4 linked regions of the Homo sapiens genome follow. The protein of the gene in region 1 purifies or fractionates together with the protein of each later gene. This does not show direct contact. Each region holds a gene or a part of one and is shown in the gene's direction. Other genes may lie near its edges.

Region 1 (3,842 bases):
CAGATGTCATGGTCACAGTTCTGTTCCCAGTGCTCCATTTTCCTTGTCTTCCTCTCTTTTAGGTACTGCTTCTCCGAGATGGCCCCAGTGTGTGCGGTGGTTGGAGGGATTTTGGCACAGGAAATTGTGAAGGTAAAACATCACTGTGGAGCAGAAAATTGTTAACCATGACTTTGTATATGTGCTGACAGAGAGAATGGAAACTGTCTTAGACAGCTGCCTGCTTTCTCTCACCCCATTCATCTTTGTTTCATGCCCTCCCCATTTCCACCTCATCCCATTTTCTCTGGCCCATCCAGGTGCCATTCAGCAAATGACCTTGGAGTGCCTGCTCTGTGCTTAGCTCACAGTTGGCCATAGTGCCTCGAAGGTGTGATCTGCTCTCCCCTAACTGTATTAGTTATCCAGTGCCTGTTGTATTGGTCAGGGATTCTGCTTCTCATAGCTCTATAAGTGAGTACTATCATGATCCCCACTTAAGAGGAAGACACTTGGGCCCATGAAAGGGACTCCAGAACCTGTGCTCTTAACCTCTGTACAGTTTATCTCTATTCATCACCATGACATCAAAGCCCTCCCTTTTTTTTTTTTTTTTTTTTTTTTTTTTGAGATGGAGTCTCGCTCTGTCCCCCAGGCTGGAGTGCAGTAGCACGATCTCAGATCACTGCAAGCTCCACCTCCCGGGTTCACGCCATTCTCCTACCTTAGCCTTCCAAGTAGCTGGGACTACAGGCGCCTGCCACCACGCCCAGCTAATTTTTTTGTATTTTTAGTAGAGACAGGGTTTCACTGTGTTAGCCAGGATGGTCTGGATCTCCTGACATCGTGATCTGCCCACCTCAGCCTCTCAAAGTGCTGGGATTACAGGCATGAGCCACTGTACCCAGCCGCACCCCCCCCCTTTTTTTTTTTTTTTGAGACAGAATCTCACTTTGTCTCTCAGACTGGAGTGCAGTGGCATGATCTTGACTCACTGCAACCTCCGCCTCCTGGGTTCAAGCGATTCTCCTGCCTCAGCCTCCCGAGCAGCTGAGAGTACAGGTTCCCACCACCACACCAGGCTAATTTTTGTATTTTTAGTAGTTCACCATATTGGCCAGGCTGGTCTCGAACTCCTGACCTTGTGATCCTCCCACCTCAGCCTCCCAAAGTGCTGGGATTATAGGTGTGAGCCACCGCACCCGGCCAAGCCCCCGTCTTTTTAACCACACACTGTAGGTATTTGTAGAGAAATCAGTTTCTGTGTCCCCATGAACACACCAGGAGCCCCTCAAGGCTCTGTACAGGATGACCCGTGACCCTGTTAGGTAGGTGTTAGTGTGTCTCTCAGAAGGGAAGCATCTTATACAGGGTCACATAACCAGTAACTAGCACAGCCTTTTGAGGGTCTTCTGGAACATTTGGGTTGCTAAAACTATACCATACCCCCAAATATATTGTACATTCTTTGCAGACTTTGCTATTTGCCCGAAGATGTTAAATTTGCCTTTTGCAGGTTCTTGGCTGCCTTCGTGGACTCCGGTGAGGCTTTTTCCTTCTTTCTTATGGAGCAGAGTCGTGCCTGGTTAAATGATTGGCCATGTCCATGTACATGTCAAGTTTGAGCTTGGGAGGACAGTTTGGAGGCCAGCCCTTAACACTTTGTCTTGGGGTCTGTACATTCTGGAGGCGTTTGGCTCAATTTGTTAGTCACACCGTTTTCCTAAGGCTACTTTTTTTTTTTTTTTTTGTCTATTTTTTCTGATCCTTCTCTCTGGTCTAAATTCTTCCTTTGATCAAATCTAACTTTCTTCTATGTAATGGGCACCGAGGAGATATTTGGAGGGGGAAGAAAAGTGTGCAATGGCCATACCTCTTTCCTTGCTCACATTTTATACATAGCCCAGAGTGATGTGAAAATTACAGTTTATATGCCCAATCTGAGAAGAGGGTAATGGCCACCCAGAGGACTGTTCGAGCAGGATTCTGAGGCTCCCTGTAGACAAACTGCAGGAAAGAGTGCAGCAATGGGAATGTTCTAAGTGGGGAATGGGAATGTACATATTTTTGTAGCCTAAAATGACGACACCACCAATAATAGACAAGACTTACTGAAAGCCCACTGTCTGCCACACAAAGACAGTGTTTTTTACGTGGATACTCATTTCATCTCCCACCGGCCCTATGAGGTAGGAACTCCTGTGATCCCTGGTTTATAAAAGAGAGACTAAGGTGCAGGAAAGAAGATGCTTGCCCAGGCTAGTGAGTGTGGTGCCAGGATGTGGGCCCAGGCAGTCTGGTTTCTGAGCCTGTCCTCTTCACCACGGGGCAGTCATGCATCAGGTGTTGCCTTCAATGGCACCATCATGTAGAGACTGCATGGACCCCAGGGCCGCTGCCCTTGCATTGTCAGCCTTACTTCTGCACATCCCATTGAGGGGCTCCCCCTAAATTTTTCATGTGGGATGGAGACTGGAGGTTGGGGCAGGTAGCCTTGACCCCATTGTTGGTGGTAGTTTCTCACATCCCCATCCTCACACAGCCCCCTCCTTCCTGCCTGCTGGAGACAGCTGGTGCCCAGCATCTTGTTTCTGTTTATCCCAGATAGCCAGAGTACTCTGCATTCTTCGTTGCTGGGTGTGTTTGGAATCTCCTCCTACCCCATCTTGCTTGGGAAGCACTTTACCTTTTGCCCCATGTCACCCCATGCCCTGCTCTCATCCCCAGTACTCCTTCATACTTATTACTGGTCAGCCTTCAGCCAGCTGGCAGGCGGGGCCTGCAGTCCAAGGGCCTCAGACTCACCTTTCTCTCCTGAGGCACTGTCTGAGCGCCTATGGAAAGCTTACACTAGGAGATGGGTCAAGCGCAAGTCTGCTCCTTTGGAATCATCTTTTGCGTCTTTCCTTTCTTACGTCCTTCTAGATACCCTATTTTATATCCATGTCTACTTCCTTGGGTTTAAAGCAGTTTTCCTTTCTCTCCATCCCCACCGTCCACGGCAGGTCTCCCTGTCTATGGTAAGAGAGGTGATAGTGAAAGCAGCAGCCATCCCAGGTTCATGGTAAAACACATACCATCTCCTGTATCTTGGGTTTGAGGGTCTAAGAGTTCCACCTGTGTACTGTTGGACCCTTCCACCTGGCTAGGTTGGTGGCATCCCCAGTATTGGTAAAGGACTCCTGGCCCTATTATTATTAATAGCAGCTCCTACTTACTAAGAATTTACTACGTGCTCGGCACTTTACAAGCCTAGTCACATTTCATTCTCACCAAAACTCTAGCAGGCAGGTGCTTTTTATTTGCCTATTTGCCCAGAGAAGCAAACTTCTTTCTGATCCAAGCTCCATGTGGACAGAGACCTCAGAATCCTTAATGTCTAGCTGAATACCTGGCATAGAGTAGATGCTTAATAAATGTTCCCTTGACTGGGTGCAGTAGCTCATGCCTGTAATTCCAGCACTTTGGGAGGATTGCTTGAACCTAGAAGTTCAAGACTAGCTTGGGCAACATGAGGAGACCTCATCTCTACAAAAGTCCCAGCTACTCAAGAGGGTATGGGAGGATATCTGGAGCTGGGGAGACGGAGGTTGCAGTAAGCCGAGAATGTGCCTCCCACCTGGGTAGCAGAACAAGATCCTATCTCAAAAAATTAAAAACATTTACAAATAAATAAAATTTCCCTGGAAAAATGGCTGACTAACACTATTTGTATATGGTAGATGTGATTGTCCCTGTTTTATGGATGAGGAAAAGGGTTTGGTGCTGAGTTTGAAGAGGAGCAGTTCAGGATGTGTAGCCCCACCTTCCTCATGAATGATGGGACGGTGCTCCTGGGAACCGTTAAACCCTGCCCTGGCAGC
Region 2 (3,842 bases), on another chromosome or scaffold:
AAAACTCTTGAATTATATACTTTATTATTATTATTTTGAGATGGAGTCTTGCTTTGTCGCGTAGACTGGAGTGCAGTGGCGGGATCTTGGCTCACTGCAACCTCCACCTCCCAGGTTCAAGCGATTCTCCTGCCTCAGGCTCCCGAGTAGCTGGGATTACAGGCATGCACCACCACACATGGCTAATTTTTGTGTTTTTTTTAGTAGAGATGAGGTTTTACCATGTTGGCCGGGCTGGTCTTGAACTCCTGACCTCAGGTGATCTGCCTGCCTTGGCCTCCCAAAGTGCTGGGATTTCAGGCGTGAACCACCTCAGCTAGTCGGGAGGCTGAAGTGGGAGAATTGCTTGAGCCTGAGAGGCAGAGGTTTCAGTGAGCCGAGATCATGCCACTGCACTCCAGCCTGGGCAACAAGAGCGAAACTCTGTCTCAAAAAAAAAAAAAAAATTATATTCAATGAATATAACTGAGTGAGTAAAAGAATGAGCCAAAGACCTGGAAGAGATCTAAGGGGTCCATGATTCCAGATTTCAGGCGGGGCCACATTCAACTATCATTTCTTCCAAATTTTTGCAGTGGAATACAAGTTTGAAACCTGGTTATCTCCTTAATTCTCCATGTGCTGTGAGGAGATTTGGCATAAATTGAACAATTGGACTTGAGTATTTCCATCTAATATTAAACTACCTTAAGTACTTTGGCACTGCAGAAATGTAAAGCATCCCTTTTATTTGTCATTTCTAGGGGAGGTAACTCCAGGACTATCTCAGGTGGAATATGCACTTCGCAGACACAAACTAATGTCTCTGATCCAGAAGGAAGCTCAAGGGCAGAGTGGGACAGACCAGACAGTGGTTGTGCTCTCCAACCCTACATACTACATGAGCAACGATATTCCCTATACTTTCCACCAAGACAACAATTTCCTGTACCTATGTGGATTCCAAGAGCCTGATAGCATTCTTGTCCTTCAGAGCCTCCCTGGCAAACAATTACCATCACACAAAGCCATACTTTTTGTGCCTCGGCGAGATCCCAGTCGAGAACTTTGGGATGGTCCGCGATCTGGCACTGATGGAGCAATAGCTCTAACTGGAGTAGACGAAGCCTATACGCTAGAAGAATTTCAACATCTTCTACCAAAAATGAAAGGTAACAAATGGGAGCAGAAGTCACATTACAAACCAGATTGGGATTAAAACCTTTCTTGCCTGTTTAGACAAGTCCTTAATTTTGTTATCGTAGCACCACCATGAAAAGACCATGAGCACCATGAAAGAAATGTAAAGTCTTTTTCAGAAGATTGAGCTTCTTTAAAGATTTCATTTATGCCTGGTGCATTGGCTCACGCCCGTAATCCCAGCACTTTGGGAGGCCGAGGCAGACAGGTTCCTTGTGGCCAGGAGTTCAAGACCAACCTGGCCAACATGGCGAAACCCCGTCTCTACTAAAAATAGAAAAATTAGCCAGGCATGGTCGCAGGCGCCTGTAATCCCAGCTACTCAGGTGGCTCAGGCAGGAGAATCACTTGAGCCCGGGAGGTGGAGGTTGCAGTGATCCGAGATCATGCCACTGCATTCCAGCCTAGGCAACAAAGCAAGACTGTCTTAAAAAAAAAAAAAGATTCATTTATTCATTTGCAGGAGGTTACAGTGAGCCAGTGAGCTAAGATCCCGCCACTGCACTCCAGCCTAGGCGACAGAGCAAGACTCCATCTCAAAAAAAATAATAAAATGAAAGTATATAATTTAAGAGTTTTTGGTATAGTCATAGAATTGTGCAACCATCACCACAATGAATTTTAGAACATTTCAATTAAAAAAAAACTCCATGTTCACTGGATTATTCATTAATGGAGACTGTTACCTATCCTAGTTTGAAATCTCACAGAGAATTTTCTTTTAAAGCAAAGGATAAGCCAGACACAGTGGTGTACGTCTGTAGTCCAGCTACTGGAGAGGCTGAGGTAGAAGGATCGCTTGAGGCCAGGAGTTCAGGTCCAGACTGCACAACGTAGTGAGACCCCATCTCCAAAAAATAAATAAATTAAGGACAGGATGGGCATGGACCACTCTTCAAGATTACTGACCAGCTTCTTGATATTTGACAACTACTTCTTATCTTAGTGCTCTTGCCAGCTCTTCAAAAGGAGGTACTGTTCTCCAAGAACGATCCATGCATCACAGCATCAGAATCACCTGGTAATGCATATTAAAATTAAAAATGCATAATATGTAATAGAAATTAAAATCTCAGGCCTCCATCCCCTATCTACTGAATCAGAATCTGCATTTTAACAGATCTTTTGTGGTTCATATACAGTTGAGTTCTTTTTTTGTTTTTTTTTAGGCAGGGTCTCACTCTGTCACCCAGGTTGGGATGTAGGTATAGTGGCACACTCATGGCTCACTGCAACCTCGAACCCCAAAGCTCAAGCAGTCTTCCTGCCTCAGCCTCCAGAATACTGGGACTACCTGGGCACACCACTATGTCTGGCTAATTTTTTTTTATTTTTTTGTAGAGATGGAGTTTCACTTTGTTGCCTAGGCTGGTTTTGAACTCCTGGCCTCAAGTGAGCCTCCCACCTCAGCCTCCTGAAGTGCTGGGATTACAGGTGTGAGGCACCGTGCCTGGCCATAGTTGAGTTCTTGTCCCTCAAAGAAATTACTTTCTCTACAGTTATTCTGGTGAAATTTTAATCAATCCGAATGTTTTGAGATTTTTCTTCTGGGAATTTTTTCAGAACCTACACCACATTATAAACTATCTTTAGTAATTCTTAAAAAACTTTAGCTCTGGGAAGTATTTTATTTTTTGAAGTATCTTATTTGGAAAATAAGATAGATGCTCAAGTTTAAAAATACTGATTTTAGGTCAAGATAATGTATAATTATAAAGTTTTTGTTTGATTTTTCTTACATGGGTTACAAATCATATCTGAAGTTAGCTTCTAAAAGAGAATTCCAAAAATGTTTTTCACAATCATAAAATATATTAGACTGTTTCCTGTAAAGCCTCTTTTGGAAGAAAATACTCATTTGAATATGTAAGTTCTAATACATTTGATTAAATTCTTTTTATTTATAGAAATGTTTTCCATTTTATAGATAATTAGCCTGTTCAATTCATTGAACTTTCTTATGTCTTCAAAATCCACATAAATGTGGGGCATAGAATCATTTTCTTTCTAGCTTTTTTCTTACATTAGTTGCTACTTGTCATGTTCTACTGTCTAAGTTTTATTAATTCAGTATAGTTACAATCTCATGTAAAATAAATTTCTCAAAAGTACTTCTCGGTCACCATTCCTTTTTTTTTTTTTTTGAAACAGAATTTCGCTCTTGCCCAGGCTGGAGTGCAATGGCACCATCTCGGCTCACTGCAACTCCTGCCTCCCAGGTTCAAGTAATTCTCCTGCCTCAGCCTCCCGTGTAGCTGGGGTTACAGGCACGCGCCACCATGCCCGGGGAATTTTTCTGTTTTTTTTTAGTAGAGACAAGGTTTTACCATGTTAGTCAGGCTGGTCTCGAACTCCTGACCTCAGGTGATCCACCCCCCTCAGCCTCCCAGGGTGCTGGGATTACAGGCGTGAGCCACCGTGCCTGGCTAAAATCATATTTATTGAAAGGTTTAAAAACCTTTAAAAAAGTGAGCTATGATTTCATACACTTTGAACGTGTAGTAGAGATTGTTTTACTTTTTAAAAATTACAACAATTGGCCGGGTGCAGTGGCTCACGCCTGTAATCCCAGCACTTCGGGAGGCCAAGGGAGGTGGATTGCCTGAGATCAGGAGTTCGAGACCAGTCTGGACAACATGGTGAAACCCCGTCTCTACTAAAAA
Region 3 (2,650 bases), on another chromosome or scaffold:
GTATCCAGCATTATAGAGACCCTAGGCCCTCTTCCCTTAGAGCCTGGGTGCAAAAGCTAGGGAAAAGAAGTAGTTAGCTACTTCTTACAAAGAACTCTTGCTTCCCTCCTAGTTACAGGTGTTAGTGGGATGGGGTGTTTAGCTGGGTAGAGATGGCCTGAAGCAATCTGTTGTGCCAGAGAAAGTTTTGGCTTCTATAGGTTGAACCATACGAAATTGCCACTTTAAAAGTCAAAAACAGTCCAATGTTAGCAGTTTCGTATGTTTCAACGAATAGTTACAGCCTTTTATTTAGACTGCATAACCTCGTGCAGGATCATCTGAGGCTCGGCCTCAGTTCGGTCCTCCATAAAAAAAGGTAACCGCGTAGCATAATACTCCTGCTCCACTGCGCCCTTCTTGTTTCGCAGTTGGGCAGTCCATGAATTACTTGGTTAATTGCCCCAGTTCTTCACTGACCTTGAACTAATGGAGTAGGAATGACAGGAGACCCAGCCTGCCAGTGAAGCAAGGAAGGAGATGTCCAGTGGGATGTTGCATGGAGCTGGGACTCCATGCCCAGATGACCCTGATTTTATAAAACTGGTAACAGTGTGTACAGATATGTTTCAGGGGAAAAGTCTCTTTCCTCCAGCGTTACGGAGCCCTCACCAGCATTTGTTTCCACAGCCGATATTATGTACACGGGGACAGTTGACTGCTGGAGGAAGATTGCAAAAGACGAAGGAGCCAAGGCCTTCTTCAAAGGTGCCTGGTCCAATGTGCTGAGAGGCATGGGCGGTGCTTTTGTATTGGTGTTGTATGATGAGATCAAAAAATATGTCTAATGTAATTAAAACACAAGTTCACAGATTTACAGTGAACTTGATCTACAAGTTCACAGATCCATTGTGTGGTTTAATAGACTATTCCTAGGGGAAGTAAAAAGATCTGGGATAAAACCAGACTGAAAGGAATACCTCAGAAGAGATGCTTCATTGAGTGTTCATTAAACCACACATGTATTTTGTATTTATTTTACATTTAAATTCCCACAGCAAATAGAAAATAATTTATCATACTTGTACAATTAACTGAAGAATTGATAATAACTGAATGTGAAACATCAATAAAGACCACTTAATGCACGCTTTCTATTTTATTGAACTCTTATTAACTGTAAAATGCATTTTTAAAAGATCAAAAATGCATATTTTCTAGCATGATTCATGTATCAGTCAGCAGCCAAGCTTCTAAATGCCAGATATTATATTGAGAATGTATTATATGAGAACGTACAATGCTTAAAGTTCCGGTTTTCAAACTTAGGCAGGTCATATTCTATCTATCTTATCCAGCATTACTGTAGGCTAGAAAGTGATAATGGCTTTCATAATCCTGCCTTGTCTTAGGCACTTTCCTGCAGTCTTTAGAAATTCTAAGATTCTGCTAAAAGTTTTAAATCACAATCTGGAGAATTTTCTATGATTAGGAAGTGCTCTGTTTTCATCCCTTTAGATAACTGTGACACCTAGAATTTTATGTTAAGTAGAGAGTATTCATTGAAAATCAAGGCCAGGTGCAGTGGCTCACACCTGTCACCCCAGCACTTTGGGAGGCAGAGGTGGGCGTATCACTTCAGGCCAGGAGTTTGAGACCAGCCTGGCCAACCGAGCGAAACCCCATCTCTAATAAAAATACAAAAAATTAGCTGGGTGTGGTGGCGCACACCTGTAATCCCAACTACTCAGGAGGCTGAGGCATCAGAATCACTTGAACCCGAGAGGCAGAGGTTGCAGTGAGCTGAGATGGCATGCCACCACATCCATCCTAAGCGACAGGGCAAGACTCTGTCTCAAAAAAAAAAAAAAGAAAGAAAATCAGTTGTCTTAGTTTAAGCTACTATAACAAGGTACTGTAGACTGATGGCTTATAAGCAACAGAAACTTATTTCTCAGTTCTGTAGTCTGGAGGTCCAAGATCAAGGTGACACTGTGGTCAGGTTCTGATGAGGGCCCTCTTCTGGGTTATAAACTACGGACTTCTTGTATCCTTACATGGCAGAAAGAGCGACAGAGCTCTCTGTAGTCCCTTTTATAAGCTCACTAATCCCATTCATGAGGGCCCTACCCTCATGACCCAATTACCTCCCAAATGCCCCTCCTCCAAACACCACCACTTTGGGGGTTAAGATTTCAACAGATGAATTTTGAAGGGACACAAACATTCAGTCCATAGCATCACTTATCAAGCTAGTATTTAATACCTCTTAGGCCCCGTGGAAGGGAAAATAGATAGGAACCTGCCCTGAAAGATGCTTCAGTTGGGGAGAAAAGGTGAAATTCCATTGTTAGACAATTTGTTTAAGACAATACATCTTGCTTGAGAAGGAATAGAAGGGAAATGAAATGGGGGGAGGGAGTGGTAGGAGATGGAGGCTTTGAAAGAAAATAACCAGATTTAGAAACATGGGTATAGAAAGCATCCTCCAGTACTTCTGTAACAATTTATCAAGACCTACAGGAAGTCAGTTTTGGATTTGCTCCTCCGAGATTTGCGAGCCAGAGGAAAATACTTAGACTATCAGGTTGGAAAGTTCACACTTGGACCAGGAAAAGACCAAGCAGTTGCTATAGTCTCCTGGATTGTGACTAATCTGGAGGAAGCAAGT
Region 4 (3,842 bases), on another chromosome or scaffold:
GGGAATAAAGGCACAGGGATGTCCCTGTATATTTTATTTTATTTTATTTTTAAATCTTTCCTAAGGATGTTGTTTCACCATGGATACAATTTTGATGTTGGTGCTAAATTGCACATCAATAACTAATCCTGTGCATTGCTAAGAAACCCAAAGGTGAAAGTGGCAGTTCAGCAATACTTTCAGTGTTTACTCTCCAGAGAGCTCTTACAGCTCTTCTGGTTTAGAAAGGCCTCTGTGAGCCAAGACCAGACAATAATTTTGGTTCCACTGCACCACTGTTTAAAATAGTCTCAACCAGGCTTTGAATTTAACATCCCCAGTACAATATGTAGGGAAAGGTCAGCTATTTATTTTGTTGCCTGGTTGTTTTATGGGGAATCTTTATAACTAAGAAGATGTACAGGCTTAATTTCTTAAAAAGTCAGTGTTGGGTAATACTCTTGTTTGTAGAAACCAGCACAGTTGGGATCAAATTAAACTTCATTCCCTTGATTTTGTGAATTTGGAGTAGCCTGTAATACAAACTCGGTAGAGAATAGCACCCATAACCCTGACTAACTTTCAACTGCCCTTATAAGGTCTTTGCTGAAAAAGCAACTGTGTTGCACCTGTACTCATGCACACACACTCCTCCGTGGAAACCATACAAAGTAGCCTACCACAGGGTTTGAGATTGTAATTGTCTCTATAGTGAAGATTTTGCTATGAAATTAACTGATGTTACCTGACCAGTAGGACTTGTTCTGAATGTTGGTGAATTTTACATTCCACAGTCTACCATGTCTAACGTTGTATTGTTTCACTGATCTAGACTATCAACCATTGATGAATCTGGTTCCATTTTATCAGATATCAGCTTTGACAAGACTGATGAATCACTGGTAATAAACATTTGATCTCTGAGAATTACCTACTTTTCTTACCTCTGCTTCCCCAGGAATATCTCTCCTGTCTTCTCTTCTGAACATCCTATATTACTATTTTATTAGTTGATGTGTTATAGATTCTGAGCTAGCAATTTAAAATATAAATCCACATGAGCTATAAGAGGCTGGCTTATATATTAGTTTCTGAAGTGAGAATATATAATTCAGAATTTGGCATAAGTTGAGTTCATTTAATAGATCTCTGTGTGCCACATGTACTAACTGATTATATTTTGACTTATTAAAGCCCCAGCTAATAATAAAAATATTAGCAAGACTGTATGTCGTCAGGGTTTATTTGCTGCTCTTAAATAGACTTGTGCCTTATTTCTGAATTAGTTTGGTTCTTGGGGAAAGCATAGTCATACTTCACAATTAGAAGGAAACCAAGGTCCTGGGATTTCAGCCAGAAAAGTGTGATTAGAGTTTCTAGGCACTATATAATGCTTTCATCAACAATGGTTAACATGTTAAACTATTTGTTGCCCTGCTTTTATGGGGCGGCACACTTCTTTTAACTTACAGTGATGCTTCTGCATAAAAGGTCATCTCCTGATACAGTCTTTGATATAGTTCATTGATTTGTGCATCTTTTCTGTTACTAGCTGAAAACTAGCAAACAAAACAAATCAGGAAGTTTTTGGTGACTGGTTTTCTGGTATAGCAAAACAGGTGACAACTATTTGTTACATGGCTAGGAGTTTTCTGTTCAGATTCAGTGTTTGACCAGGGAAAATACGGCCATTTTATAGATAAAAATATTAGGCATCACCTTTCTCAAATAGGGAATGATATAGTGGAGGTCTGGAATATATAATAAAACTAGATCATATTATCAGTTGATTTTTGAGCTAGACCTATGATACGATATTTCTTGTAACTGAAGCTGAATCAAACAACCAGTAACTAAATTACTGGACCATGACTTGGGGAAGTTAAATTTATTTAGCTAAGCTATTATTTGCTGTATACCACTGTTTCTAGATACTGTTTTCAGGGATGATCAGGAGTAAGGAAATCACAGGTAACTACTAAAATGAATGCAAATAGTTAAAATAGGTGAATTGAAATGAGACCACAATAAAAGACAAATAGTTCTTCAGTGGTGGACACGTTTTAGGGCCTAAGTTCCTAAACTGTAGAACTTTTTTTTTTTTTTTTTTTTTGAGACAGAGTCTCACTCTGTCACCCAGGCTAGAATGCAGTGGCGCAATCTCAGCTCACTGCAAGCTCCGCCTCCCGGGTTTATGCCATTCTCCTGCCTCAGCCTCCAGAGTAGCTGGGACTGCAGGCGCCCGCCACCACGCCTGGCTAATTTTTTTGTATTTTTTTAGTAGAGACGGGGTTTCACCGTGTTAGCCAGGATGGTCTCGATATCCTGACCTCATGATCCGCCCACCTTGGCCTCTCAAAGTGCTGGGATTACAGGCATGAGCCATCGCCTGGCAACTGTGGAACTTGTGAAGTGGCAATATTATGCAGAGCATTTGATTAGACAGTGGCAATCCCTTGGGGGCAAGAATCACATCTAATACAATCAGTATAGTGCCTAACATTCTGTAAGTTCTAAAACTAATTACAAAAATAATCAGAAATAAAGGATCAGCCACTGGAAATATGGCAGAATTTGATTCTTTAACCTCTTCTTGCCTCTGTGGTATTGATTCCTGATTTTATTATAATAGCTTCAATTTTTCAAAGAAAGCACATTAACTTACTATAGCTCTATAGCTACAACACTTGAGACCTTCCCTTCTCTAACCCTCCCCGAATTGTACGTTAGGTAGCCTGACTGAAGAAGCCTTTAAAGTTCTCTGTAAATTTATTTGCACAGGGTTTAGGGATGGCCTAACCAAAAAAAGAAATTAATACAGTGTAATTGTCAACAGGATTGGGACTCTTCTTTGGTGAAGACTTTCAAACTGAAGAAGAGAGAAAAGAGGGTATGTATGATTTGTTTAGTCTTTTTTTAAAACAAAGTAATAATGGAGTTATTTTTGGAAATTTTGCCATGATACTGCATTCCTGTCATGTTGCTCTAGCCATTGTTAAGCACATACTACAGATGAATTCATGCTGTGGGGACAGTATTGATATTCTTTTTTTTTTTTTTTTTTCTTTTTTTTGAGACGGAGTTTTGCTCATTTCCCAGGCTGGAGTGCAATGGCGCGATCTCGGCTGAACGCAACGTCCGCCTCCCGGGTTCAAGCAATTCTCCTGCGTCGGCCTCCCAAGCAGCTGGGATACAGGTGCCTGCCACCATGCCTGGCTAATTTTTGTATTTTTAGTAGAAACGGGGTTTCACCATGTTGGCCAGGCTGGTCTTGAACTCCTGACCTCAGGTGATCCACCTGCCTCGGCCTCCCAAAGTGCTGGGATTACAGGCGTGAGCCACTGCTCCCAACCAGTACTGGTACTCTTTGAAGTAGTAACTTAGGACAGAATCCTGTCCATTTCACTGTTTAGGCTGCATTTCAATTCATTCATACAGTGGAAAAGGATAAACTTAAGTTTGTTTTGAATTGTCATATGAATTTTTACACAGAACTTTTGTGCTCTAATATAAGCTTCATATAATGGGATATATAGAGATCTATCTGTGTATGCTTGTTTAGGGTACTTAATGTGTTTCCAAGACTTCATGTCCTTAGTTAGGATTACAGCTGTACTTTTTCTGGTGGTGTCATCTAAATTTCTCCATAGCTTGCTCATTTTTTCTAGGGCACTGAGAGCATTTTTGTACAACATATTCTTTTGAAACAGCTTATTCTTCATGTGGAAATAGGCAAAGAGAGAGAGAGAGAGAACACATTGTTTGTTATTTACTGTAGCCCTAATCCCCAGGACCTGTATCCAAGTTGTTTGATGGAATAATTTTATCTTCTGTGCTTCAGATCTGCTTGGCATTAAAGTTAC

Evidence for each region. The genes of interacting proteins can lie anywhere in the genome.
Region 2: the proteins of SAE1 (region 1) and XPNPEP3 purify together in Homo sapiens (affinity purification with mass spectrometry, with the first as the bait; one large-scale study listed by BioGRID). This does not show direct contact.
Region 3: the proteins of SAE1 (region 1) and SLC25A4 purify together in Homo sapiens (affinity purification with mass spectrometry, with the first as the bait; one large-scale study listed by BioGRID). This does not show direct contact.
Region 4: the proteins of SAE1 (region 1) and RACGAP1 purify together in Homo sapiens (affinity purification with mass spectrometry, with the first as the bait; one large-scale study listed by BioGRID). This does not show direct contact.

What each region holds. Positions count from the first base shown.
Region 1 is NC_000019.10:47,203,609-47,207,450, forward strand, and holds part of SAE1 (SUMO-activating enzyme subunit 1), read left to right. Parts: intron 1-62; coding exon 63-132; intron 133-3,842. UniProt on the Homo sapiens protein: The heterodimer acts as an E1 ligase for SUMO1, SUMO2, SUMO3, and probably SUMO4. It mediates ATP-dependent activation of SUMO proteins followed by formation of a thioester bond between a SUMO protein and a conserved active site cysteine residue on UBA2/SAE2.
Region 2 is NC_000022.11:40,881,027-40,884,868, forward strand, and holds part of XPNPEP3 (xaa-Pro aminopeptidase 3), read left to right. Parts: intron 1-743; coding exon 744-1,151; intron 1,152-3,842. UniProt on the Homo sapiens protein: Catalyzes the removal of a penultimate prolyl residue from the N-termini of peptides, such as Leu-Pro-Ala. Also shows low activity towards peptides with Ala or Ser at the P1 position.
Region 3 is NC_000004.12:185,146,145-185,148,794, forward strand, and holds part of SLC25A4 (ADP/ATP translocase 1), read left to right. Parts: intron 1-669; coding exon 670-827; 3' UTR 828-2,650. UniProt on the Homo sapiens protein: ADP:ATP antiporter that mediates import of ADP into the mitochondrial matrix for ATP synthesis, and export of ATP out to fuel the cell.
Region 4 is NC_000012.12:50,001,274-50,005,115, reverse strand, and holds part of RACGAP1 (rac GTPase-activating protein 1), read left to right. Parts: intron 1-811; coding exon 812-881; intron 882-2,815; coding exon 2,816-2,869; intron 2,870-3,842.